Linked DNA regions of Homo sapiens. The protein of the gene in region 4 interacts with the protein of the main gene of each other region in a biochemical or structural test. Each region holds a gene or a part of one and is shown on either strand. Other genes may lie near its edges.

Region 1 (3,500 bases), on a different chromosome or scaffold from region 4:
CCAACGTGGAGAAACCCTGTCCCTACGAAAAATACAAAATTAGCTGGGCGTGGTGGCACATGCCTGTAATCCCAGCTACTCGGAGGCTGAGGCAGGAGAATCGCTTGAACCCGGGAGGCGGAGGTTGCGGTGAGCAGAGATCACGCCATTGCACTCCAGCCTGGGCAACAAGAGTGAAACTCCGTCTCAAAAAAAAAAAAAAAAAAAAAAATATATATATATATATATATATATATATATATATATTCTATCCTTCCCATTAATATGACTAAACAAATATATAAATTCTTTAACATTAACAAATATCCAGCCAGCCAGTGTTCCCATTTTCTTTTTTTTCTTTTTTTCGAGATAGGGTCTCATCTGTTGCCTAGGCTAGAGTACAGTAGCATGATCATGGCTCACCACAGCCTTGACCTCCCAGGCTCAGGTGATCCTCCCACCTCAGCCTCCCAAGTAGCTGGGACTACAGCTCGTGCCACAGCGCTGGCTAATTTTCGTATTTTTGTAGAAATAGGGTTTCGTTGTATTGCCCAGGCTAGTCTTGAATTCCTGAGCTCAAGCTATCTGCGCACCTCAGCCTCCCAAAGTGCTGGAATTACAGGTGTGAGCCACCACACCCCAGGTTTTCTATGTGTTTTTTTTTTTTTTTTTTTGAGACAGGGCCTTGCTCTGTCACCTAGGCTGGAGTGCAGTGGTGTGATCATGGATCATTGCAGCCTCAACCTCTAAAGCCCAAGCAATCCTCCCACATCAGCTTCCTGAGTAGCTGGAACTACAAGCAAGCACACTGCACCTGGTTAACTTTTTTTGAAACATTTTTTATAGAGATGAGGTCTCACTGTGTTGCCTAGGCTGGTCTCAAATTCCTGGGCTCAACCAATCCTTCCCTCCTTAGCCTTCCAAAATACTGGGATTACTAGCAGTTCTTTAGATAGGCCTTCCCTAATAACTATGTCTAAAATAACAGTCAACTCAACCCCTTGACCTGTTTGATTTTTCTCTATACTTTTATCTTTTGAGACGGAGTCTCACTCTTTCGTCCAGGCTGGAGTGCAGTGGCTTGATCTTGGCTCACTGCAACCGCCACCTCCCGAGTTCAAGAAATTCTCCACCCTCAGCCTCCCCAGTAGGTTAGATTACAGTCACCTGCCACAATGCTTGGCTAATTTTTATATTTTAAGTAGAGATGAGGTTTCACCATTTTGGCCAGGCTGGTCTTGAACTCAGTTGAGACCTCAACTGATCTGCCTGCCTCGGCCTCCCAAAGTGCTGGGGTTACAAGCGTGAGCCACCATGCCTGGCCCCTCTGGTAGCCTTCTAACTGAGTTCCCTGCTTCCTTTTTCCACCCCCATCTCCAACCCGACTTTTCTCACAAGGTGCCTAGAGCATCTTTTTTTAAAGTTTTATTTATTTATTTATTTATTTATTTATTTATTTATTGTAGAGACAGGGTCTTGCTTTGTTGCCCAGACTAGTCTGGAACTCCTAGGCTCAAGCAATCCTTCTGCCTCGCCCACCCAAAGTGTTGGGATTACAGGCATGAGCCACCACGCCTGGCCCAGATCAACTTTAATAAGGGCTTCTTTGGTGGAATGGTGGGACACAAGGTTGAATGCAATAGGTAGAGAGGTAAATGAGAGTTGCAGCTGAGCATGCTGGAAAGACACAACAGAGCAGGTTGGTTCTATGCATTTGTGATCCATTCAATCAACAACAAAAAATAATATGCTTTGACTTATATGACTAGGCAGTAGAGATACAGGTTAAGAAAAAAAAGGACACAGTTTCTCTTTTTTTCTTTCTTTTTTTTTTTTTTGATGGAGTCTTGCTCTGTTACGCAGGCTAGAGTACAGTGGCGCGATCTTGGCTCACCACAACCTCTACCTCCTGGGTTCAAGCGATTCTCCTGCCTCAGCTTCATGAGTTGCTGGGACTACAGGCGCACGCCACCATGCCTAGCTAATTTTTGTATTTTTAGTAGAGACGGGGTTTCGCTATGTTGACCAGGCTGGTCTCGAACTCCTGACCTCGTGATCCACCCGCCTCGGCCTCCCAAAGTGCTGGGATTACAGGCGTGAGCCACCATGTCCAGCCAAAGTTTCTATTCTTAAGGAACTAACATCTTATAGAAAACACAAAAAATATATATATCCATTTGTTCATTCACTCATTCATTCACTTGAGAAATATTTACTGAGTGCCTACTGTGTGCTAGGCACTGTTCCAGGTGCTGAAAATATATACCAGAGAATAACATAAAACCTCTGCCCTTGTGGTGCTTACATTCTAGTCGGAAAGGAATAAAAAGTATAGAGAGGCCGGGCGCAGTGGCTCATGCCCTTAATACCAGCAGTTTAGGGAGCTGAGGCGGGCAGATTACTTGAAGTCAGGAGTTCAAGACCAGCCTGCCCAACATGGTGAAACCCCATCTCTACTAAAAATACAAAAATTAGCCAGGCGTCATGGCACACACCTATAATCCCTGCTACTCAGGAGGCTGAGACAGGAGAATCGCTTGAACCCGGGAGGCGGAGGTTGCAGTGAGCCGAGATCACGCCACTGCACTCCAGCCTGGGCAACAGAGCGAGATTCAGTCTAGAAAACAAACAAACAAAAAGCTACCACAGAAATCCAGTGAAAAGATAACAGTGGTAGCAATGGCTATAGTTTTGAAATTCATGACTTGCTGAAAGTCATCAGCTTCAAATGGGTACGTTGCTCAGCAATCCTGTTTCCTTGATCAACTCATTCTCCACAAAGATTATCTTAAAACTTCTCCAAGCTAGGTGCAGTAGCTCACGCCTGTAATCCCAGAACTTTAGGAGGCTGAGATGGGAGGACTGCTTGAGGCCAGGAGTTCAAGACCAGCCTGGGCAACATAGAGAGACCTCGTCTCTACTACAAATTTAAAAGAATAATTAGCTTGGCATGTTGGCATGTACCTGTAGTCCCAGCTACTTGGGAGGCTGAGGTGGGAGGATCACTTGAGCCTGGGAATTTGAAGATATGGTGAGCTATGATCGTGCCACTGCACTCTAGCCTAGGTGACAGACAGACCCTATCTCAAAATAAATAAATAAAGTGGAAATTTTGTTTGTTTGTTTTGAGACAAAGTCTCACTCTGTTGCCCAGGCTGGAGTGCAGTAGCGTGATCTCGGCTCACTGCAACCTCCTCCTAGGTCCAAGCGATTCTCCTGCCTCACTCTCCCAAGTAGCTGGGATTACAGGCGCCCTCACCACGCCCAGCTAATTATAGTATTTTTTAGTAGAGATGGGGTTTCACCACGTTGGCCAGACTGGTCTTGAACTCCTGACCTCAGGTGATCTGCCCACCTCGGCCTCCCAAAGTGCTGGGATTACAGGCGTGAGCCACCACGCCCAGCCTGAACATTTTTATTTTAATTTTTAAAATTATTTTTAGAGATGGGGTCCTGTTCTGTTGCCCAGGCTGGAGTACAGTGACACGATCATAGCTCACTGCAGCCTCAAACTCTTG
Region 2 (3,500 bases), 8.9 Mb from region 4:
GCAACAAAGTGAGATCCCTCTCTACAAAAAATTTAAAAATTAGCTGGGTGTAGTGGCACATACTATGGTTCCAGCTACTCAAGAGGCTGAGGTGGGAGGATCACTTGAGCCTGGGAGATCAAGGATGCAGACTGCAGTGAGCCATGATTGCGCCACTGCACTCTAGCCTGGGTGACAGAGCAAGACCCTGTCTCTTAAAAAAAAAAAAAGAAAGAAGAAAGGCCGGGCATGGTGGCTCATGCCTGTAACCCCAGCACTTTGGGGGGACAGAGTGGGTAGATTACCTGAGGTCAGGAGTTGGAGACTAGCCTGACCAACATGGTGAAACCCTGTCTCTACTAAAAATGCAAAAATTTGCCAGGCCTGGTGGCACACGCCTGTAATCCCAGCTACTCCGGAGGCTGGGGCAGGAGAATCGTCTGAACCCAGGAGGCAGAGGTTGCAGTGAGCCAAGATGGCGCCATTGTACTTCAGCCTGGGCAACAAGAGCAAAACTCCGTCTCGGGGAAAAAAAAAAAAAGAAAAAAAGAAAAGCACATTTCTCAAGGGGATCTTAGCTTTATTGTTAACCTTACATTACAAGATTTAGGGAGTACTTTCTATTGCTTTCAATAGAAAGTTTCTATTGAAACTTCAGAACAAGTTTCAACTTACTACCTAAACAAATGGATCTTCTAAGTATTTGTATAAATCTCATACTTCATAAAAATTTATACTCCATTACCACTGGAAAGTGGCCAAGAAGATACACTCTATAGTCCTCAGTTGGGCAAAGTAATTTAACTATTTGAAGTTCTCAAGGTCCAAGGTTGTAACAGGGGGCACATTAAGACGATCTCTGGTATCACTAAAGAAGATAATCTAATATTGAATCTTACAATATTGAAACAACCATCAGGTATGCCCCATTTAGGCTGTCAAATCACAAGAGTATTCGAAAAATCCCAAAATCACCTCTCCTACCAGTTTTGTGATGCGATCTAATACCAGTTATCCCATTTATAACTAATCAATACTGAGCACTGAATCTATAAAGCATGTAACTTCCTGTAATTTTTCAAGGCTTCAGTCTAATTCTTTTACTGATTTGAAAAGCAGAGCTTAAATAGGTTTTAAAGTATTAAATAAGTCATAATCACTCACCAAGTTTTACTGGACTAGGTATTTTTTTTTTCAGTAGGAAAAGGAATGGCTTGCAGACAGAAGCTTTTAGTTGAGAAGATGAACATTCATGTTGAGAAGTGGCTTTCAAGTTCCTACAGAAGAGGTCCACATGTCCGTGTTCAGAGAAAGGTTCTGTTAAAGAACTTGTCAGATAAAACATGCCGTGAAGAGTACAGACAAGTTGACCAAGTATAGAAGCAAATTCTTTCTTGACAATGTCAGAATCATCTTTGACTTTATCTCTGGGGAAAAAAAAGAAAAAGTACTAAACTTTCTTGCCTAATTTTGTGGTCTAAATAGTCTTGCTTAATTTGGGACAAAAGTACTGGTAAAACAAAGCCTAGAAGGAAAAAATGTTAAATTCTAAAACTAAAAGCAACATTTGCTTTACATATTCAACAATAAACACAACCCTGCATACATAGCCAGACAATTATGATCTTTCCAATAGAGTGATATATTCAAATTAAAATCTTAGTACATACATAAGAATCTTGGGAACTCTGTTACAAGAATTCTGCTGCTGCAATAAGATAAAAAATCCACTAACACAACTAGCCCGGATTACTTCATGGGAGCTCTGCAGGGCCCAGTTGTAAACTGCTGTTCTCCACTCAAGGAATATTCTTCTTGGAAACAGAGTCAGAAGAAACACACATCGTGATTGTGCCTGTGGTGCTGAAAAAATTAAGTCTATTAAACAAGATTTCTACTAATGTTAATTTTATGTATACACATATACATATATATAAGTAAAGTAACATTTGTGTATACATATATATAAATAAAAGTCAAGTAACACTTAAAATACATTTAATACCTAATTTAATTAAAAGCTCCTTTTCAGAAAATAAAGCAAGTGCACTGAAAAAGGTCTATACACAACCTTACTAAATAATCAAGGAAATGCAAATTGAAAATCATACCTACCAGATAGGAAAAAGAAAAAATTTAAGATACTTAACTCCATGACATTTTTTATTTTCTAGATAGCAAAAATTTTAAAGTCAGCTAAGTGTCAGTGAGGATGTGGAACTCATACTCTGCTAACAGGAGTGTAAACTGGTGTATCTTTGGAGAACAATACAGCAGAATAGAGGTGAAGATGTGCAAACTCTATAACCCAACAATACTACTCCTAGGTAGGTAAAAACGTTAAAATAATGCTTCTCAAACTTTAATATGGATATGAATCACCTATCTTGTTAAAATGCAGATTCTGATCAGTAGGTCTGGGTGGAGCATAAGATTCCCCATTTCTTTCTTTCTCTCTCTTTTTTTTTAATGTGCTCTTTCAGCAGAATCAAAGACGCTCCATTTCTAACAAGTCCCTAAATGGTGGCGATGCTACTGGTCTGTGGAGCATACTTTTCAAACAGCAAGGACTTAGAATGACTAAAGAATCATTTATAAAAATATTCATTTAAATGTTGCTTGTAATTGTGAAAAGTTGGAAACAACTTGATTGTCCACCAATAGGAGGTCTGATAGTGTCCATCCAAATTTGGCTACTATTTGGAAGTTTAAATAAAAACTAGAGTTACCCATATCACCATGGATAAGTCTCATAAAGATAGTGTTGATCAACAAAATGTAAGCTGTAAGAAGCAAAACAATTTCTTATATTATTTATAAATAAATACATATATAGTAAAAGTAATAGAACATTCAACAGAACAATCAACACCAAATTCAGAACAGTAGTAATCTCTGGGGAAAAAAATGAGGGGAATGAAATCATAGAGGGACAAAGGCTTCCATCATATCTCTAATAGCCCAGGCTGGAGTGCAGGGGTGCAATCTTGGCTCACTGAAACCTCTGCCTCCTGGGTTCAAGAGATTCTTGTATCTCAGCCTCCCTAGTAGCTGGGACTACAGGCGTGAGCCACCATGCCTGGCTAATTTTTGTATTTTTAGAAGAGATGAGGTTTTGCCATGTTGGCCAGGCTGGTCTCAAGCTCCTGACCTCAAGAGATCCGCATGCCTTGGCCTCCCAAAGTGCTGGGATTACAGGCGTGAGCCACCGTGCCTGGCCTAATGTTTCTATTTCTTAAACTGAGAAGTTGGTATAAGAATTTTTGGTATATTGTTCTTCTTTTTAAAATATTTCTCAAATACTTCCTAATTTTATTAAATGAAGATAATGATATGTAAGGACACATTGCAAATGTTTTACAAAAAGAAAGGAAATGGGATATGTGGGGCAGGCTTTTATGTGTTACTTTTTATGTATCTAACCCCCTTCTGAACTATTAAAAATGTACCTGCTCTTTTAATTATTGAAAAAAATATAAATAAGTCTTAGAAGTCCTATATAGAGATGAGTTAAAACAAAC
Region 3 (3,500 bases), on a different chromosome or scaffold from region 4:
CTCAAACCCAACAGATAGATTTTTACTCTTCCCCACAAAAAGGGAGGCTCCCCTCTGAGTATATGAAATGTACCATCTGTGAATAAGTAGAATCCTCAAGCAAAGCCTCTGGGCCCTACAGTGGGGAGTCCCAAAGTGTCACAGTTGGCTCCTGCCTGCTAAGGTGAAACGATGTCTTATGACCAGTGAGCTGTGCCCAGATACCCATGGCCCAGCCAAGGGTCCACAATCCCGTTCTTGAATATGAAAGACATCAGACCATTTGAGAAATGCCTATGGCCTAAAAAAATAACCCTGAAGAAACAGATAATTTGGAGAACTAAAGAAAGTTAAACTGAACTCTAATTAGTATCTTCAGAGAGATGTGTGCAACTCTTACATTCCTAAACCAAGAACAGGATGCTATGAAAAAGGAAGAGTTAAAAACTAGGAAATGTTGATGGAAATTAAAACAGTTGCAAAAGATAAAACATCCACTCCAAGTCTGGAGTCAAGAAAAACTTCCTCAACATAGATAACAAGACAAAGCTATGGAAAATGTAAGGCAAAAAAATAAGACAGAGCATCGTCATTCCAGGAAGCCTGAAAAGCAAGAATAAAAAACACGGATGTTTTCTGTGGGGGGAATAGTAAAGAAATAGTAAAATAAAGATATTGTCAGATATATAAGAACTCAGAAAGTTTATCTCACATGCGCCCTTTCTTTGAATGTTACTTAAGAACTGTGCTCTAATTTAATGAGGGAGTAAATGAAACAAAGATGAAGATCCCAAGAAACATTGGACTAAACTAAGAGGCACAGCCAAGATTTGGACATCCATGGGGACAGTGGAAAGCAGGTCTAGAGAGCTGTAGGTCCAGGCTGTGGTGGGAAGACAGAACCCCAGACTCTCCAGCAAAAAGGGGCTCACAGAAAAACAGCTGGAAGGAGTTTGGAGGAGAAAAAAATGGATGTGATAAAGGAGGCAATTAAAAACAGCAGGAAAAACAAAGAGCCGTGCCAGATAGTAATCTATTACTACACATGATTGTCTCTGGAATAGTTTATTAGCACAATAAAGTAAAACTATTTGTTTACTTTCAACTTTTAAAATCAACCTGTAACCAAAGATAAGACAATTTATATCTTTTTCTCTAACCCAAGATTGTTATCAGTCTTGAAAACGTAAAAGCACAAATTTCAGAAAGTACTGAGCAGCACTGAAGAGCAAAGTAAGGCTGTTTCTACACCTTGGACATTTGTCCCCTCAAAACCTCATGTTGAAATCTGATCCAAGATCTTCGAGGTGGGGTCTAGTGGGAAGTGTTGGGTCATGGGTGCAGACCCCTCATGAATAGATGAATGCTCTCCCTGGGGCTAGGGGGTGTAAGTGAGTTCTTACTCTATTAGTTCCCGTGACGGTTGTTAAAAAGAGCCTAGTACCTTCCTCCTCTCTCTTCCTTCCTCCATTGCCACATGGTCTCTGCACCCACCAGCTCCCCTTCTGCCATGAGTGGAAGCAGCCTGAGGCCCTCACCAGATGCAGATGCCCAATCTTGAGCATTCCAGCCATCAGAATTATGAGGCAAATAAACCTTTTCTCTTTATAAATTACTCAGCCTCAGGTATTCCTTTATAGCAACACAAAATGGACTAAGAGTGTTTTAAATATCCTTTTCTTACAAAGTAGGGAGACGAGATACTAGTGATGAAAGAAGACATAAATATGTTAAAGTTACAAAGAAGTTAAAAATAGTGGCAAAACTGTACCAACAGGAGGGAAGGTGGACAAGAGTGGGATAAATGCTCCTTTGTCATAGCAGGAAGTTGGTAGACAATGTCTAAAGCCTACCCATCAATGCTGGGATGATGGCAGCAACAGTGGTAAAATAGTTTTTGGATTTTCCCAAATTTCTAGATAAAAGTAGAGCAACTAGATTGCAAAACCAAAAACCTAGGACCCACATTTGCAACAAATTAAGAGAACAAGGGAACACTTCAAACCCCAAAGTGTAAGCAGGTAAAAAGAGACCATGAACAGCCAGACAGGTATACTATCTACATCAGTGCGAGAGAAAGCCAAGAGGTAGTGAGACCTAAGAAGACTTAAAACTCCAGGCAACTGGAGAGCAGCGGCCCAAACTGAGAGTTTTGCCCTATGCAAGAGCAGGTGAGTGCAGTGGGCCAAGGGAAAGTTTAAGGAGCCTCCCTGGAGTGCAAGGAGTCCTGGTAATGAGCAAGGGGTCCTGTTAAACAGCAAGGGAGCCTGGTAAAGTATAAGGGGGCATGGTAAAGAGCAAGGGGCCTTGCTGAAGTGTAAGGAGACTATAGTAAAGAGTAAGGGGCCCAGCCTGACCAACATGTCTCTACAAAAAATACAAAAATTAGCCAGGTGCAGTGGCACATGCCTGTAGTCCCAGCTACCTGGGAGGCAGAGGTTGCAGTGAGTGGAAATCATGCCACTGCATGCCAGCTTAAGTGACAGAGTAAGACCCTGTCTCAAAAAAAAAAAAAAAAAAAACCTCCAGTGAATCATACTCCTAATGTAAGGGCTAAAACTATTAAAGTGTTAGTAGAAAAAATAATGTGAAATCTTCATGACCTTGGGTTAGGCAATGGTTTCTTAGATATGACACCAAAAGCACAAGAAACAAAAGAAAAAGTAGGTAACTTAAATGTCATCAAAATTAACAAATCTTATACTTCACAGGACACTGCCAAAGTGAAAAGTCAGCCTACAGAATGGGAGAAAATACTTGCAAATTACTTATCTGATAAGGGATTTGTATGTAGAATATATAAAAGTTTTAGGCTGGGCACGGTGGTTCATACCTATAATCCCAGTGCTTTGGGAGGCCAAGGCTGGAAGACTGCTTGAGCCCAGGAGTTTGAGACCAGCCTGAGCAACATGGTAAGATCTCATCTCTACTAAAAATTTAAAAATTAGCAGGTGTGGTAGCTCATGCCTGTAATCCCACCTATTCAGGAGGCTGAGGTGGGAGGATGGCTTGAGCCAAGGAGTTTGAGGCTGCAGTGAGCCATGACTGCACCACTGCACTCCAGCTTGAGCAACAGAGTGACACCCTGTCTCAAAAAAAAAAAAAAAAAAAGACAAAGGACTTGAATAGACAATTCTCCTAACAAGATACACAAATGACCAATAAGCACATGAGAAGATGCTCAACACTATTAGTCATCAGTAAAATGCAAATCAAAACCATAACGAGATACCACTTCATACTCACTAGGATGAATGTAATCCAAAAGATGGACAATAACAAGTGTCGGTGAGGATGTGAAGAAATTGAAACCCTCCCTCCTGGTGGGAATGTAAAATGGTGCAGCTGCTGTGGAAAAGTCTGGCAGTTCCTCAAAAATCTGGCAGTTCCTTGAAACCTAGTGTTACCATGTCACCCAGCATTTCCACATGTAGGTATATAACCAAAAGAAACAAAGACATGACTACACAAAAACTTGTACATGCAAGTTCACAGCAGCATTAGTCATAATTGTCAATAGG
Region 4 (3,500 bases):
TGGGCAACATAGTGAGACCTTGTCTCTACAAAAAAATTTTAAAAATTAGCCAGGTGTAGTGGCACATGCCTGTAGTTCTAACTGCTCGGGAGACTGAGGGGTGGCTGATGCCCAGGAGTTCAAGGTTACAGGAAGTTATGATTGTGCCACTGCATCCCAGCCTGGGCAACAGAGTGAGACCCTAACTCAAAAAAATTAAAAAAAAAAAATCCAATAAGTTGTTCAGAAACTAAGTGCTCTCGAAATATAGCAGATGAAAAGATTAATGTAGTTAGGAGGGTTCAGAGAAGAGTTAAAACCTGAAATGAACTTTTAAAAGATAACAGAGGAAGATACCTTGCAGGCAGAGGGACTCTCGCAGCCAAAGGATGGACATGGTCTAGTAAGTGCATCTACTTAGCTAGAGTGGAGGGTTTACATAGATAGTAAGGAGCAAGCCCAACTCTGAAGGGTCTTCAAAGTCAGGCTAGGAAATGCTAATGTATATCATCTACTGCATGTATTATATAATAAAGACGTACCCGACAACCATCTAATAAATCTTCAGGTGCTTGAAATGCACTGACATCCAGATTTTCTAGATTTTCAAGTGTAGGCTCCAGTTTGCTGTTAAGTGAATTACATATTGATTCACTTACGCAACTTGCATTTATGTTGGAAATATTGCTGACATCTGAAAGAGTACGACCTACATATTTTGAAAACGTATAAATTTATGGGAGATAAAATAATCATGATTACATATTGTCTATGGATTAACTTTTCTTACAAATATAGGGCAATAAACAACTTCCAAAGTAAGATTCAGGGGTGTTTACTGAAATCTTAGTGGCAAAGTATAAAAAGGGAAAATGAAATTAATTAAGCCTCCTATCTTATTTAAATGAAAATAGATTTAACACATTTTCTTAATAGTGTCTTGTTTCCCATAAAAATCTGAAGTTGCTGACTTTAAGGTCCAAGAAGCTTACATTTGAAAAAATATTTTAAACATTTTGCCAACACGACACCTACAAAATAGAAATGGTTTTAATTTTTATACAAATACAGATGATCTATAACTGCAGCAAAACTGTAAATTAAGGAAAGATTAATATATGCATGTAATGTTTAAAAGATTAATACTTTTATCTTAAGCCCCCAGCTACCATTGTTCTTAATTTCTTTGATCATCTTTTGCATTACAACAGAGTATAAAAGACAGCATTCATTCATTCTAAAAGAAAATTACGAACAGTTCAGTGCTAACTTTTTATACAATTTGACTATTATACAATTATGCCTAGAAGCACAGCAAACAAGAAAAAGAAATTCCCTATCTCAGTGATCCTATTAACATACTGATTATTACATAGAAATATGACTGTCTTCAGAATAATTATTTTAATCTCAATGAGACTCACTATCAATTGTGTTGATCTGGCTGGTAGGAGTTGAAGAATTGGGCATAGTCTTTGCTTCTGGTCTAGGTTCTGTCTTGTATATGGATTCATCCTGACAAAAACCTTTCTCAATACTGTCAAAAAACCACTGTGTGGTCACACAGTGTACATTCCATCTCTTGGCACACTCATACTTCTGACCTGTGGCGTTCATTAAGAAAGAAATAGAGAAAATAGGAGAAACCAAGAAATGAAAACCATTACAATCTATCTTTGCAGAAATATTCAAATTATAACAGGTTAATATTTTTTTTTTTTTTTTGAGATGGAGTCTCACTCTGTTGCCCAGGCTGGAGTACAGTGGTGAGATCTTGGCTCACTGCAACCTCCACCTCCCTCCTGATCAAGCGATTCTCCTGCCTCAGCCTCCTGAATAGCTAGGATTACAGACGTGTGCCACCATGTCTGGCTAATTTTTTTGTATTTTTAGTAGACACGGGGTTTCACCATGTTGGCTAGGCTGGTCTCAAACTCCTGACCTCAGGTGATTCGCCTGCCTTGGCCTCCCAAAATGCTGGGATTACAAGCGTGAGCAACCGCGCCCGGCTATAACAGGTTATTTCAAAAACCTATCAACAAAATTAAAGTTACCAGTACTTACTCTTAAACAGTATGCTACACAGTTTATTACAAAGTAGTATTTTAGCTTATTGCCTAATTATATTTTCTATGTGTAGTATAAATACATATGCCATGTGAGAGGTTTTATCTTTTATACAAACTGCAGGAAGACAGAAGCAACTGTGGGGTAACTTAATTAATATTGGACTTGGGTTTGCATATAGGCTCCATCACTTAATTTCTTTAAACCAGCTTGTACAATGTGAAAATTGTAAATTTGTGCTATATAATAAATCCCAACTTTGAACAGACTATTCCAATGTCAACAGGCTTCTACTTAAAGTCCAGGATAGATAAGCCAAAAGATAAATTATATTGAAAATATGTATCTTTTATTACCTTAAAAATCTTCAACACAATGTATTTTGAAGCAGTATCACAGAGGAATTGAGGTCAATATGTCACATGAAAGGTTTTTTGGCATTCTTGAGAGAATCAACAATGAACTGTCTTCAGATTCAGAAAAAGAACAGCAGTATCAACTCTACTCACAGTGATCCTATCACAATCAGCCATACTCAAAGTTCTGACTTAAGGACAATTACCATTTAATCGTAATTTCTTCTCAATCTAGATAGCTTAGTAAAACACAGTATACATATAAAGGGCAATAATAAAAACATTAACAAAACTCATCTTTTATCAATTTGTGTATATTTTAAGAGTGCTGATAAAAAATTATCCAGAATAATGTTATGTAACACCAAACTTAATAGCAATTTTAAAGAATTTTTCTTGTTCGTAATGTCTTTTTCATTTTTTACTGCCTCATGTGCCGCAAGGTGTGTCTTCCAGTTAAAACTTTGCAAGATGTTAGAGAAAACATCTTTGCAAGATGTTAGAGAAAACAGTATCAAACTAGATTAATGACATGTCAGAAGTAAAAGCTGTTCTGTAAAGATTTTAAAATATTAAATATTAGTGGCTGGGCACGGTGGCTCATGCCTGTAATCCCAGGACTTTGGGAGGTTGAGGTGGGAAGATCAATTGAGGTCAGTTAGAGACCAGTCTGGCCAACATGGTGAAAGCCCGTCTCTACTAAAAATAAAAAGTTATTCAGGCGTGGTGGCAGGTGCCTGTAATCCCGCTACTCGGGAAGCTGAGTTGGGAGAATCGCTTGATCAAGGGAGGCAGAGGTTGCAGTGAGCTGAGATTGTGCCACTGCCCTCCAGCCTGGGCAATAGAGCAAGACTCTGTCTCAAAATAAATAAATAAATAAATAAAAATAAAATATTAAATACTAGAGAAAATGTTTCATTTGTCCCTTTGTGAAACACAGTTTTACCTTTTGGTTCTTGCACAATGAGGTGTGTACATTCATTCATTTTCAATTGTCCCATGTATTGACCTCCATGCTTAACTGTGAGTTGCTGAACTTCTTTCCTGTCTAAGCCACATAAGCCAGTCACACAGATTATGCAACCAAGAAAAATAGGA
Region 5 (3,500 bases), on a different chromosome or scaffold from region 4:
AATAATGAGAAAGGAATAGATTAAAGTGAGGCTAGGTGAAAGAGCATTGGAGAAGATATAGAGATGACTTGTGGAATAGGAGGTAGAAAAAGTAGCTCTCACCCTGGAAACCTTCTCAGCAGCTCTGATCCTGGAAGCCTTCTCAGCAGGTGGCATCTTGCAATTCAGGAGGCCTAGACAGAAAGTAAACACAAAGGTGGCTGAGTTCCAAGCAGCTGGTTGCCCAGGGGTTGATTATCACGAGGCCTGTGTATCACCTTGGGTTCCCCTCTGCCTTCACTTACCTTTCTGATGCCTCCTGGGGCTCACTGGGGATCCCCTTCCACCTGACTGGCTCCCAGAAGGTACGGGGGCTGAGGTAGGTCCCGGAAGGTCCCCCGCCCCCACCCCAGGCTCTGGTGTTGGGCTGGAGGCCTGCCCTTTCTGGTCCTGGCTCCCTCCCTCTGGCTCCCCTCTCTGTGTATCTCTCTCCAGGATCACTTTGGGCACCTTCTCTTCTAACTCGGCTGGATCGCACTCTCTGTTTGCTACTGGTCTCTCTACTTCTCTCTCAAATGCTTTGCTTGGAAGGGTCTGCTTCTGTACTTGTTTCTCTTGTATTTCCTCAGATGTCTCAATTTCTACCTTCAAACTCTCCCTATCTCTTTCAGGACTTGCACTTTCCCCATTTTTGTCAGATTCTTGTCTCTGGGTGTCTCTAGCTAACAACTGTTTTTGTTCTCTGTCCTGTTTCCCCTTGGTTAATTCTTCCTCTCCTGTCACATCTGTCTGTCTTTCTGGTAGCAGTTTCTCAGTTTCTCTCTCCAATGGCCCTCTCTCAGGGCCCACCCTCTCTGCTGTTTCTTTTGGTATACCCATGACTTTATCCACAGTCTGCCTCCCTCTGCCTTGAATCCCCATTGGCTCTGTGTGAACTGGGCTCTCTGGATGTTGGTCTCCTGGTATTGCCCTAGGTGGAGACAGGCAAGGTCCATAGGCCTCAAGGTGCGTGTCAAAAGGCTGGGTCTCAGAGTCCTCAGACTCTCTCAGACAGAATGGCTGTGTAGCCAGGACCTCCCATGGTTCATCTAGGGTACCTGGAAGGGGAGGAAGGAAGAGAGAGAGAGGGAGAGGGAGAGAAAAGAGGGAGAGGAAGAGGGAAAGGGAAGTACAGGTTGACATAATAAATATGATGAGAAAGGATTTAGATAAACTCATGAATAATAAATCTGAACAGGTTATTAAAGGTAAGCTGGGAATAAGGGTGGTAGTTATAACATTTAACGTTTGTCTCAAAAAGGTCATAGCCTTAGGCGGGCATGGTGGCTCAGACATGTAATCCCAGGACTTTGGGAGGCCAAGACATGAGGATTGCTTGAGGCCAGGAGTTTGAGACTAGCCTGGACAACATGGCAAAACCCCATCTCTACAAAAAATACAAAAAAATTAGGTGTGGGGACGGGGACCTGTAGTCCTGTAGTCTCAGCTACCCGGGAGGCTGAGGTAGGAGAACTACTTGAACCCCAAAGGTCAAGACTGTAGTGAGCTGTGATCATACCACTGCACTTCAGCCTGAGTGACAGAGACTCTGTCTCAAAAAAAAAAAAAAAAAAAAACCCAAGAGAAAAAGAAAAACATCATAGCCTAATATGAGTTCCCTGAATAGTCTCTCATCATACCACTGCATTCCAGCCTGAGTGACAGAGACCCTGTCTCAAAAAAAGAAAGAAAGAAAGAAAGAAAGAAAAACATCATAGCCTAATAAGAGAGTTCCCTGAATAGTCTCTCTCTCTCAAGACAGTTTCACTCTGTCACCCAGGCTGGAGTGCAGTGGCATGATGTTGGCTCACTGCAACTCCCAACTGCTGGGCTCAGGAGATCCTCCCACCTCAGCCTCCCAAGTAGCTGGGACTACGGCATGTGCCAAAGTGCCCGGCTAATTTTTTGTATTTGTTGTAGAGATGGGGTTTGGTCTTGAACTCTTAGACTCAAGTGATCCACCCACATTGGTCTCCCAAAGTGCTGGGATTACAGGTGTGAGCCACCATGCTTGGCTGGAATTTCCTTCTTTTTAAAGGCTGAATAGTATTCCACTGTGTATATATACCACATTTTCTTTTTTCTTCATTGACACATAATAATTGTACATATTTATGGGGTACCTGTGCTATTTTGACTCATGCATACAATGTACAATGATAAAACCAAGATAATTGGGATATCCACTATCTCAAACATTTATCATTTCTTTGTCTTGGAAACATATCAAATCTCTTCTAGCTATTTTGAAATACACAATAAATTATTAACTATAGTAACACTACTGTGGAACTGAACACTAGAACTTATTCATTCAATCTGACTGGATTTTTGTATTCATTAACCAACCTCTTTATGCATTCTGTCCCTCTACCCTTCCTAGCCTTTGGTAACCACCATTCTACTCTCTACTTCCATGAGATCCATGTTTTTAGCTCCCACATGAGTGAGCATACAATATTTGCCTTTCTGTGCTGACTTATTTCACTTAACATAATGTCCTCAGGGTTCATCCATGTTGCTGCAGATGACAGGATTTCATTCTCTTCTGTTGCTGAATACTGTTCCACTGTGTATATATACACATTTTCTTTTTTTTTTAGATTGAGTCTTGCTCTGTCACCCAGTTTGGAGTGCAGTGGCATGACCTCAGCTCACTGCAACCTCTGCGTCTTAGGCAGCAATCCTCCCATCTTAGCCTCCCGAGTAGCTAAGACTACAGGTGCATGCCACCATGCCCAGCTAAATTTTGTATTTTGAGCCACTGCACCCAGCCTATATACACATTTTCTTTTTTTTTATTATTAGAGATGAAGTCTCACTCTGTTGCCCATGTTGGAGTGCAGTGGTGTGACCTTGGCTCACTGCAACCTCTGCCTCCGGGGTTCAAATGAGTCTCCTGCTTCAGTCTCCCGAGTAGCTGGGACTACAGGCACCTGCCACCATGCCCAGCTAATTTTTGTATTTTTAGTAGAGACAGGGTTTCACCATGTTGGCCAGGCTGGTCTCAAACTCCTGACCTCATGTGATCCACCCACTTCGGCTTCCCAAAGTGCTGGGATTACAGGCATGAGGCACTGTGCCCGGCCTACATTTTCTTTTCTTTCGTTTTTTTGAGACAGAGTTTCACTCTTGTTGCCCAGGCCAGAGTGCGATGGCACAATCTCAGCTCACTGCAACCTCTGCCTCCTGGGTTCAAGGGATTCTCCTGACTCAGTCTCCTGAGTAGCTGGGATTACAGGCATGCACCACCACACCCGGCTAATTTTGTATTTTTAGTAGAGACGGGGTTTCTCCATGTTGGTCAGGCTGGTCTCAAGCTCCCGATCTCAGGTGATCTGCCTGCCTTGGCCTCCCAAAGTGTTGGGATTAGAGGTGTGAGCCACTGTGCCCGACCCCGGCCTACATTTTCTTTATCCATTCATCTGTTGATGGACATTTAGTTTGATTTCATATCTGCCTATTGTGAACAGTGCTGCAAT
Region 6 (3,500 bases), on a different chromosome or scaffold from region 4:
CCCTGCTTTAGTTAGTCCTCGGTTTGGTTTGGTGTCTGAGCCCCACCTCCTACCTCATTCCCCTCTCAGAGATGAGCTATTCTTCCTTAATCTTAAGGGGGCTGCAGAAGGGTGCAGGTCTGAAACTACTCTGTATGATACTATAATGGCAGATGCATGTCATCATACATTTGTCCAAACCCATAGAATGTAGAGCATCAGGAGTTTCTGGACTCTGGGCAATAATGATGTGTCAGTGTAGGTTCCTCAATTATAACAAATGTACTACTCTGGTGGGAGGTGTTGACAAGGAAGAGCCTGTGTGGTGGGAGGGGGAGGGGGTACTGGAAACTCTTTGTTCTTTGCTTACTTTTGCCATGAACAAAAATAAAGTATATTAAAAACAAAACAACTTTAAAGGCTACATTCCAAGCACCTGGAAAAACAAAATACCAAATATCATGCAACAGATGATGCTGAGTCCAGGAGGTGTTGCTGAAATAACATGGGCACCATACGCTTGATCTGCACATGTGGGAGAGGGCAAGCTGGGGGAGGTTTGCTTTGCTCTCTGAGACGAGGCCCTCCTGGGAGCTTCAGGGTGGGGGCTGAATGCCCATGCTGCCCCAGTATGTACACACCTGTCACTCCTCCAGCTTCCGCTGTCTTCTTGACTTTCTGCTGGTCATCCCACCGAAGCTCAGAGAACCCATCCACCTCAACGTCAGGGTGCCGGATGGAGTGGCCCACCTTCCAGAAGCAGGAGAAGTGGTACCAGTGTGGGACTTTTCCATCAAACATGGGCGACTAGAAGGAAGAGAAACAGAGGGAAGTAAGTAAGCAGTTAACTTTTGACTTAGACCCACTAGACCTTGACCTTGACCTCGACCCCAGTCCCAGCCCCAGCAGTGGGATAGCACATGAAACTTTTGTTCTCCTATCTGTGAAAGGAGGACAGCCTCCGCTCTCACATGAAGAGCTGCAGCATCCTTCTCACGATCTTCCCCAAGGGTCAGAAGACTGTAGCCCACTGTTCTTGAGCTCATTCTCTTAGGACACCAAACACAGCCACGAGAAAGGTGGCCTTTTACCACTGAGCTCTGCCCCACGTCCCTTTTGACCACACACTGCTACATTTAGTGGTGAGCTGCCTCATGGCCTAGTGAAATGCACAGAAGACACTTGTGCAGAGTCACAATCCTGCAGCATCTGCTGGGAATGGCCAGACAACTGCTCCAGGCTTGCCTGGACTCAAAGGGCCTGTGTGCCCCAGAAAAGGGCTCTTTAAGTGCCTCTGCAGTTAAGAATAACAAGGAACAAGTCCCAGATAATGAGCAAAGCAGAGAAAGTGTGTCAGAAAAAAGTGTCAAGCTTGCAGCAGCCACACAGATGGGAGTGGAATGAATGGAGGTCTTTGAGGCAACTGTGACAGCGGATGGTTCGGGGCAGCATGCCTAGAGCTGGAGTCAGCTGCTCACTGGCCTTCTGGGGCGCAGTTTCCCAGGCGTAGGACCTGAGAAGTCTGGCCACAGGGAACACAGTTCCCCTCTCCAGGTGGTTTGCTTCCCACTAGGCCTTTCATTGTGACAGGGTCAGGTTCTGCTCCCAGGCCTCGAGCACTGTCTGGCTTTGTTTTTGAGACCGAGTCTTGCACTGAGTGCAGTGGTGCGATCTCAGCTCACTGCAACCTCTGTCTCCTGGGTTCAAGCGATTCTCCTGCCTCGGCCTCCTGAGTAGCTGGGACTACAGGCACGTGCCACCCATGCCTGGCTAATTTTTGTATTGTTAGTAGCAATGGGGCTTCACCATGTTGGCCAGGCTGGTCTCGAACTTCTGACCTCGTGACCCGCCCGCCTCGGCTTCCCGAAGTGCTGGGATTACAGGCATGAACCACTGCACCCAGTCCTGGCTTTACAGAGTGGACGGTGACAGCGATTGGGAAGAAGGGGAAGACACAGTATGTAGTGTGTGTCCCTGCTCCTTTCATAAGCCATCCTGTGTAATCCCACAATCTGCCTCTGGGTGGGAACCAGCCCTTTCATTCACAGATGGAGACAGTGGGGCTGGAAATCCTTGCCTGGGGGGTTGGGAGTCACAGAGGCAGCAAATGAATGATTTGACACTATGATTCCTCCCACCACACTCCACTGCCCGGCAGGAAGAGCTACTTAAAAATACACCAACTGTGATCTGACTAAAGTAAGGGAAGTCCCAAACATCTGCTTTTATAGAACATAAAGCTAAATGTCACACAGATGCAATAAGACTATTAAAACAGCATTAAAAGTAAATGTGCTGAATTTTTAGGATGGAGTTGCGGGGACAGGGAAAATACTCTGGAAAAGCAATGATAAGGTACCCCACTATCTCTCTCCACTGTGAGTGGCCTCTTTCTGGATGTGATGTATTAAAATGCACAGCTAAGACTATGGCAGCACAAGGACTCCTCAACATCAGCTTTCCCCTGGGTCTGGAATGCTCTCCAGCCCTGTTCAGAGCACTCCCTCAGATCTCCCAATGCTCCTTCCACAGCTCCCCTCACTAAGAACTATGCATTTGGTGATTATTTCATAAGGGCCTATCTTGCTATTCTCTAGCAACATGTCACAGAGGGCACGCAGTGTTTGCTTAGGGCTCCAAGTCAGATGGAACAAAAAAGGAAGGATGGGGAAATTCCTGCTGTAGAAGAGACAACAAATGGCATTTCTGAGAGCATACTCATGTTCCAACTCTCAAACGTTCCACCAGATCTCAATTAGGCTGCTGATACAGATCCCTAAGCATCTGGCTATCATGGAATATTTGCAATGGCCTCGACCTGGCTCTGCCTGCTTGTCTACCCCTTGTCTACCCTTCCTGTGCAATGTTCCAGTTACCCTTGTATAAAGAGCACAGGTAATGGCTATGGCACTTCTTCCTGGCTCTGCCAGGGGCCCCAGACCTGCTGCCCTTTGGTCTGGGTGCTGTCTCCCCCAACCACCGGCACAGTGCTGGACACCCTGGAGGTGCTGCCCAATGGTGCAATCACAGCACAAGCTTAGAGGACAAGAGCCTCAGCAGAAGCACCCCTGACCAAAGCAATGCTTTGCCCTAAACTCAGGACTGAGAATGATGTGGCAGAAAGGCACCAAACCAAGGTCACAAGACTATCGACTCCATTTGTTAGCTGCACAGCTGAGGCAAGGCACAGAATCTTTGGCTGTGCACCCAAGCAAAAACTGAGCACCTAACATACCAGGGTCCTCACCCAACCAGCAGCTGGTGAACTGGGTTCCCTTCTGTGCAGAACAGGCCATGCTACCTGTCCACCTAGGCCACAGAGAGAATGAACTGACCTCACTGCATGCCTCCGGGTGCTCAAACCCTCCCAGGACAGAGCAACTCAAAGGTCTACCGCCATCCTCCTCCCACCAAAATGCTGGAGGGCCCAGCTCATCCCTCCCAAGATGCCCCAGGCATGAGGGCTAAAGTGTCAGGTATCAGATACTCAGAGAACAATACTCCCATGTAAATGTAAAAGA
Region 7 (3,500 bases), on a different chromosome or scaffold from region 4:
AAGCAGGTTAAAAATGTTTTTCCTTGGTGGGTGGGAAAAAAAAAGTTTTTCCTCATCTGCTTTTGCCATACAACTATTTTAATAATCCCATGTAGGAAATGATCATCCTCTGTTTATTATTATTATTGCCATTATTGGAGCAAGTCACATTTATTGAGTACTTATATATGTCAGACACTTTGTAAAGGCTTTATATATATTAACTCATTTAATTCTCACAAGAATCCTATTAAATAAGTACTATTATTACCCCAATTTGCAGATTAGAAAACTGAGGTACAAGGAAGTTGGGTAACTCCAGACAGCACATACTTCAGGGCCAATACTATTAAGCAATATTTACACATATCATATTGGCACTCAGTGCTTTGGTATAATGATTTCTCTAATAACAGAAGATGCTATACAATGAGTGCCCAACATCAAAAAGTACAGTAAAGGCCGGGCGTGGTGGCTCACGCCTGTAATCCCAGCACTTTCAGAGGACAAGGCGGGTAGATTGCCTGAGCTCAGGAGTTCGAGACCAGTCTTGCCAACATGGTGAAACCCCATCTCTACTAAAAATACAAAAAAATTAGCTGGGCATGGTGGCATGTGCCTGTAATCCCAGCTACAAGGGAGGCTGAGGCAGGGGAATTGCTTGAACCAGGGAGGTGGAGGTTGCGGTGAGCCGATGTCGTACCACTGCACTCCAGCCTGGGTGACAGAGCAAGACTCCGTCTCAAAAAATAAATAAATAAATAAATAATAAAGCACAGTGAGCTGATATTCACTAAGCAGGTACATGTCTGTGGGACACCACTGTAGACAAACCTTGGGGACACCAATGCCTCTACTTTATCCAGTGTGTATGCTGGGTTTACAGCTGAAGTAGCAACATAAGTTTGCAAAAACCAACAGGTAATGTTAGATAAAATATTAGATGTGATATTTTCAAAGCATTTGGATTGACAACCTAATTGTCCCAACTTGCTTTTATTTTCTAATTTAGTTCTCTCATTCATTTCCTCTTCCCTTTTTTCACTTGTCATTTCAAATTTAGAGTAGCTATTTCATTCATTTCCCACATACCTTTCTTGAATTCTATAGGAAGTTAAAGGCTTAATACTGGGATATATTAAATGAATCGACCACATGATGGACTGATAGAATTGTGATATATAGGAAAAAGTTTCTAAACTTCATTTACAAATTAATTTTCAAGACTAGTTTTACAATATCTTGTTAATAAATTACTAATTTCAAGGCTCTAATAAAATTGTTATTAAAAATATTTTAAAGTACATTTGTGTTTTTTTAAATAACAGTAAAACACTAATCCAGCCAATAAAAAAAACAAACCGCTGCACAGCTGGCATCCAACTTCTTGATCATTTGCTTGAGAATACTCAGGGCAAGACTCTGCTCCTTTTTTGCCCAGAATACTTGTGCTTCTTCCAGCTGCCACTCAGAGACTCCACAGCTAACTGAATTGTACTGTTTAATTTGAAATATTGCCCTTTCAGGGAGCTGAAATGAAAATGACATATGGGAATAAATACTTTTACTACTGATACTACTACCATGAATAATAATAATAATGAAAGCAGCAACTACCATTCATTGAGGACTTAACTACTTGTCAGGGACTATCTTAAGGACCTCTCTGTCTGCATGACATCTCCCCACCCCACGTCTGCCTATCTGTCTGTCTGTCTGTCTCTCTCTATATGTATGTATGTGTATCTGTGTGTACATACACACAGTATATAAAATCACTGAATTGTTATCAATATAGTAAGTTACGTATCTTCTCATTTTATAACCAGGAAATTGAGGTTGAGAAAAGATTAAGTACCCTTGCCCAAGGCTTAAAAGTCAGATCTAATTCCAAAATGGGAACTCTTAAACAATTATTTTTACTATATATTAATAGAGATCTCTATCTCTTAATGACATTTCTTTTTCCCTCAGGCTTTCTGTTTTTTAAATAATAAAAGGAAAGTCAAGAGGTAAGATGACATAGTTTTAAATTGTATTTACCTGAGTGTTCTTGAAAGTTCTGGCCAGTATAGAGAGTTCTACAAGGTGTTTGGTGAGAATGTCCTTAATACATTCTCTTTGTGAGTTGTCCATTTCCTTTTCCATCAGGATCTCCAAAATGACTGTGCGTAGAGCCATGATAGGCTCCTGAAAACTAAAATCACTGTCCTTGAGAAGCTGGGAGTGTTTCTGCCACTTAATATATACTTCAGAGAGTTGTCTATGTGTGACTGATCTGAATGCCACGACATAGAGTTCATGTAAGCAAGAGAAATGAAAAAAAAAAAAAAAAAAACTATGTAAGTTCTGGAACTTACGATATAATATTATAATAATACAAAGGAACTTTTGTAGTGACAAGACTAGAACTTGTAAATAATCCTACATATGGATCAAAATTTAGAAAACTACAAAATGCTATGCGGTCAGAGCTCTTAAGAGTTATTAGCAGAGAGGTCACAGATGACAAACATCAAAAAAAATTTTTAATACTCTGACATTACAAAAAGCAGCCCTTCTAAATACTCTTCTGAAACAAGAACATATTCATCAGACCTATCATAAAGAATGCCTCCATCTTTAGTCCTGCTTCAATACTGCCTGTAGTAATGAGGACATGTCAGCAAGGAAATGAGGGACCCCCTACTGGGGATGACTTGATGCATAATTATAGCTGTCAAAAAAATCACAATCCAGTGAAGGAAAAGCTGGCATCTGGCAAAGGTTTCATTTACCAACATTATTAAAGGAACAGAAAAGGCATATTGCACAATTAGTTTATATGAATAGTATCCTTCCCAAATAACTGAACTATGAAATACTACCCAATCCTTCAGGGACATTTATTGAAAGAAATAAGAAAGAGGAAGCAGGGAGAGTAAGATGACAAAGTGATGACTAAGAAATGAAAGCTCTTTTAGTTGCTTGATAGGGAAGGAACAGTAACAAAAATGCTAGGAACCAAAACTTCAATTCCTCTCTAAATGACCCTACCACAGCAGGTCTCAAACTTTTTGCGGAACTCCTTTACAATCAAACAAATTATTGAAGACCCCAAAGAACTTTCGATCGTTGGACCATATCTACTGATATTAGATATGATATCATATTAGAAAGACTGAGAAAAATCTAAAATGTATTAATTTATTCAAAAATAATAAATCTACTATATATCATAAATAACAATTTTTAGGAAAAATAACTACAGTAGTTTCTCTGTATCTGCAGAAAATTGGTTCCAAGACACCTTGATAATGCTGATGTTCAAAGTCCCTTATTTAAAATGGCAGGGCATTTTCCTATTACACGTAACCTCTAGATTGTGCTTTTATTAAACATTTCCAAAAAGTATTACACATAACCTCTAGATTACGTGTAATAGGAGAATGTGCACAGGTTATACATAAATCTCTAATTACATATTATACCTACTATAATGTAAATGCTATGTAAATAAGTGTTATACCCTATTCTTTAAA

What was found.
Region 1: the proteins of TOPBP1 (region 4) and RHNO1 form a complex in vitro, tested with the Homo sapiens proteins (2 studies listed by BioGRID).
Region 2: the proteins of TOPBP1 (region 4) and ATR form a complex in vitro, tested with the Homo sapiens proteins (one study listed by BioGRID).
Region 3: the proteins of TOPBP1 (region 4) and CDC45 form a complex in vitro, tested with the Homo sapiens proteins (one study listed by BioGRID and IntAct).
Region 5: the proteins of TOPBP1 (region 4) and MDC1 are reported together in a solved structure, tested with the Homo sapiens proteins (3 studies listed by BioGRID, with this or other methods).
Region 6: the proteins of TOPBP1 (region 4) and PARP1 form a complex in vitro, tested with the Homo sapiens proteins (one study listed by BioGRID).
Region 7: of the proteins of TOPBP1 (region 4) and ATM, one has a biochemical effect on the other in vitro, tested with the Homo sapiens proteins (one study listed by BioGRID).

The regions. Positions count from the first base shown.
Region 1 is NC_000012.12:2,880,223-2,883,722, reverse strand, and holds part of RHNO1 (RAD9, HUS1, RAD1-interacting nuclear orphan protein 1), read right to left. Parts: intron 1-3,500. UniProt on the Homo sapiens protein: Involved in microhomology-mediated end-joining (MMEJ) DNA repair by promoting recruitment of polymerase theta (POLQ) to DNA damage sites during mitosis.
Region 2 is NC_000003.12:142,554,734-142,558,233, forward strand, and holds part of ATR (serine/threonine-protein kinase ATR), read right to left. Parts: intron 1,843-3,500; coding exon 1,650-1,842; intron 1,407-1,649; coding exon 1,144-1,406; intron 1-1,143. UniProt on the Homo sapiens protein: Serine/threonine protein kinase which activates checkpoint signaling upon genotoxic stresses such as ionizing radiation (IR), ultraviolet light (UV), or DNA replication stalling, thereby acting as a DNA damage sensor.
Region 3 is NC_000022.11:19,510,920-19,514,419, reverse strand, and holds part of CDC45 (cell division control protein 45 homolog), read right to left. Parts: intron 1-3,500. UniProt on the Homo sapiens protein: Required for initiation of chromosomal DNA replication. Core component of CDC45-MCM-GINS (CMG) helicase, the molecular machine that unwinds template DNA during replication, and around which the replisome is built.
Region 4 is NC_000003.12:133,651,942-133,655,441, forward strand, and holds part of TOPBP1 (DNA topoisomerase 2-binding protein 1), read right to left. Parts: coding exon 3,349-3,500; intron 1,584-3,348; coding exon 1,404-1,583; intron 689-1,403; coding exon 522-688; intron 1-521. UniProt on the Homo sapiens protein: Scaffold protein that acts as a key protein-protein adapter in DNA replication and DNA repair. Composed of multiple BRCT domains, which specifically recognize and bind phosphorylated proteins, bringing proteins together into functional combinations.
Region 5 is NC_000006.12:30,707,282-30,710,781, forward strand, and holds part of MDC1 (mediator of DNA damage checkpoint protein 1), read right to left. Parts: intron 1,077-3,500; coding exon 285-1,076; intron 174-284; coding exon 103-173; intron 1-102. UniProt on the Homo sapiens protein: Histone reader protein required for checkpoint-mediated cell cycle arrest in response to DNA damage within both the S phase and G2/M phases of the cell cycle.
Region 6 is NC_000001.11:226,401,594-226,405,093, forward strand, and holds part of PARP1 (poly [ADP-ribose] polymerase 1), read right to left. Parts: intron 787-3,500; coding exon 621-786; intron 1-620. UniProt on the Homo sapiens protein: Poly-ADP-ribosyltransferase that mediates poly-ADP-ribosylation of proteins and plays a key role in DNA repair.
Region 7 is NC_000011.10:108,324,067-108,327,566, reverse strand, and holds part of ATM (serine-protein kinase ATM), read right to left. Parts: intron 2,258-3,500; coding exon 2,023-2,257; intron 1,510-2,022; coding exon 1,342-1,509; intron 1-1,341.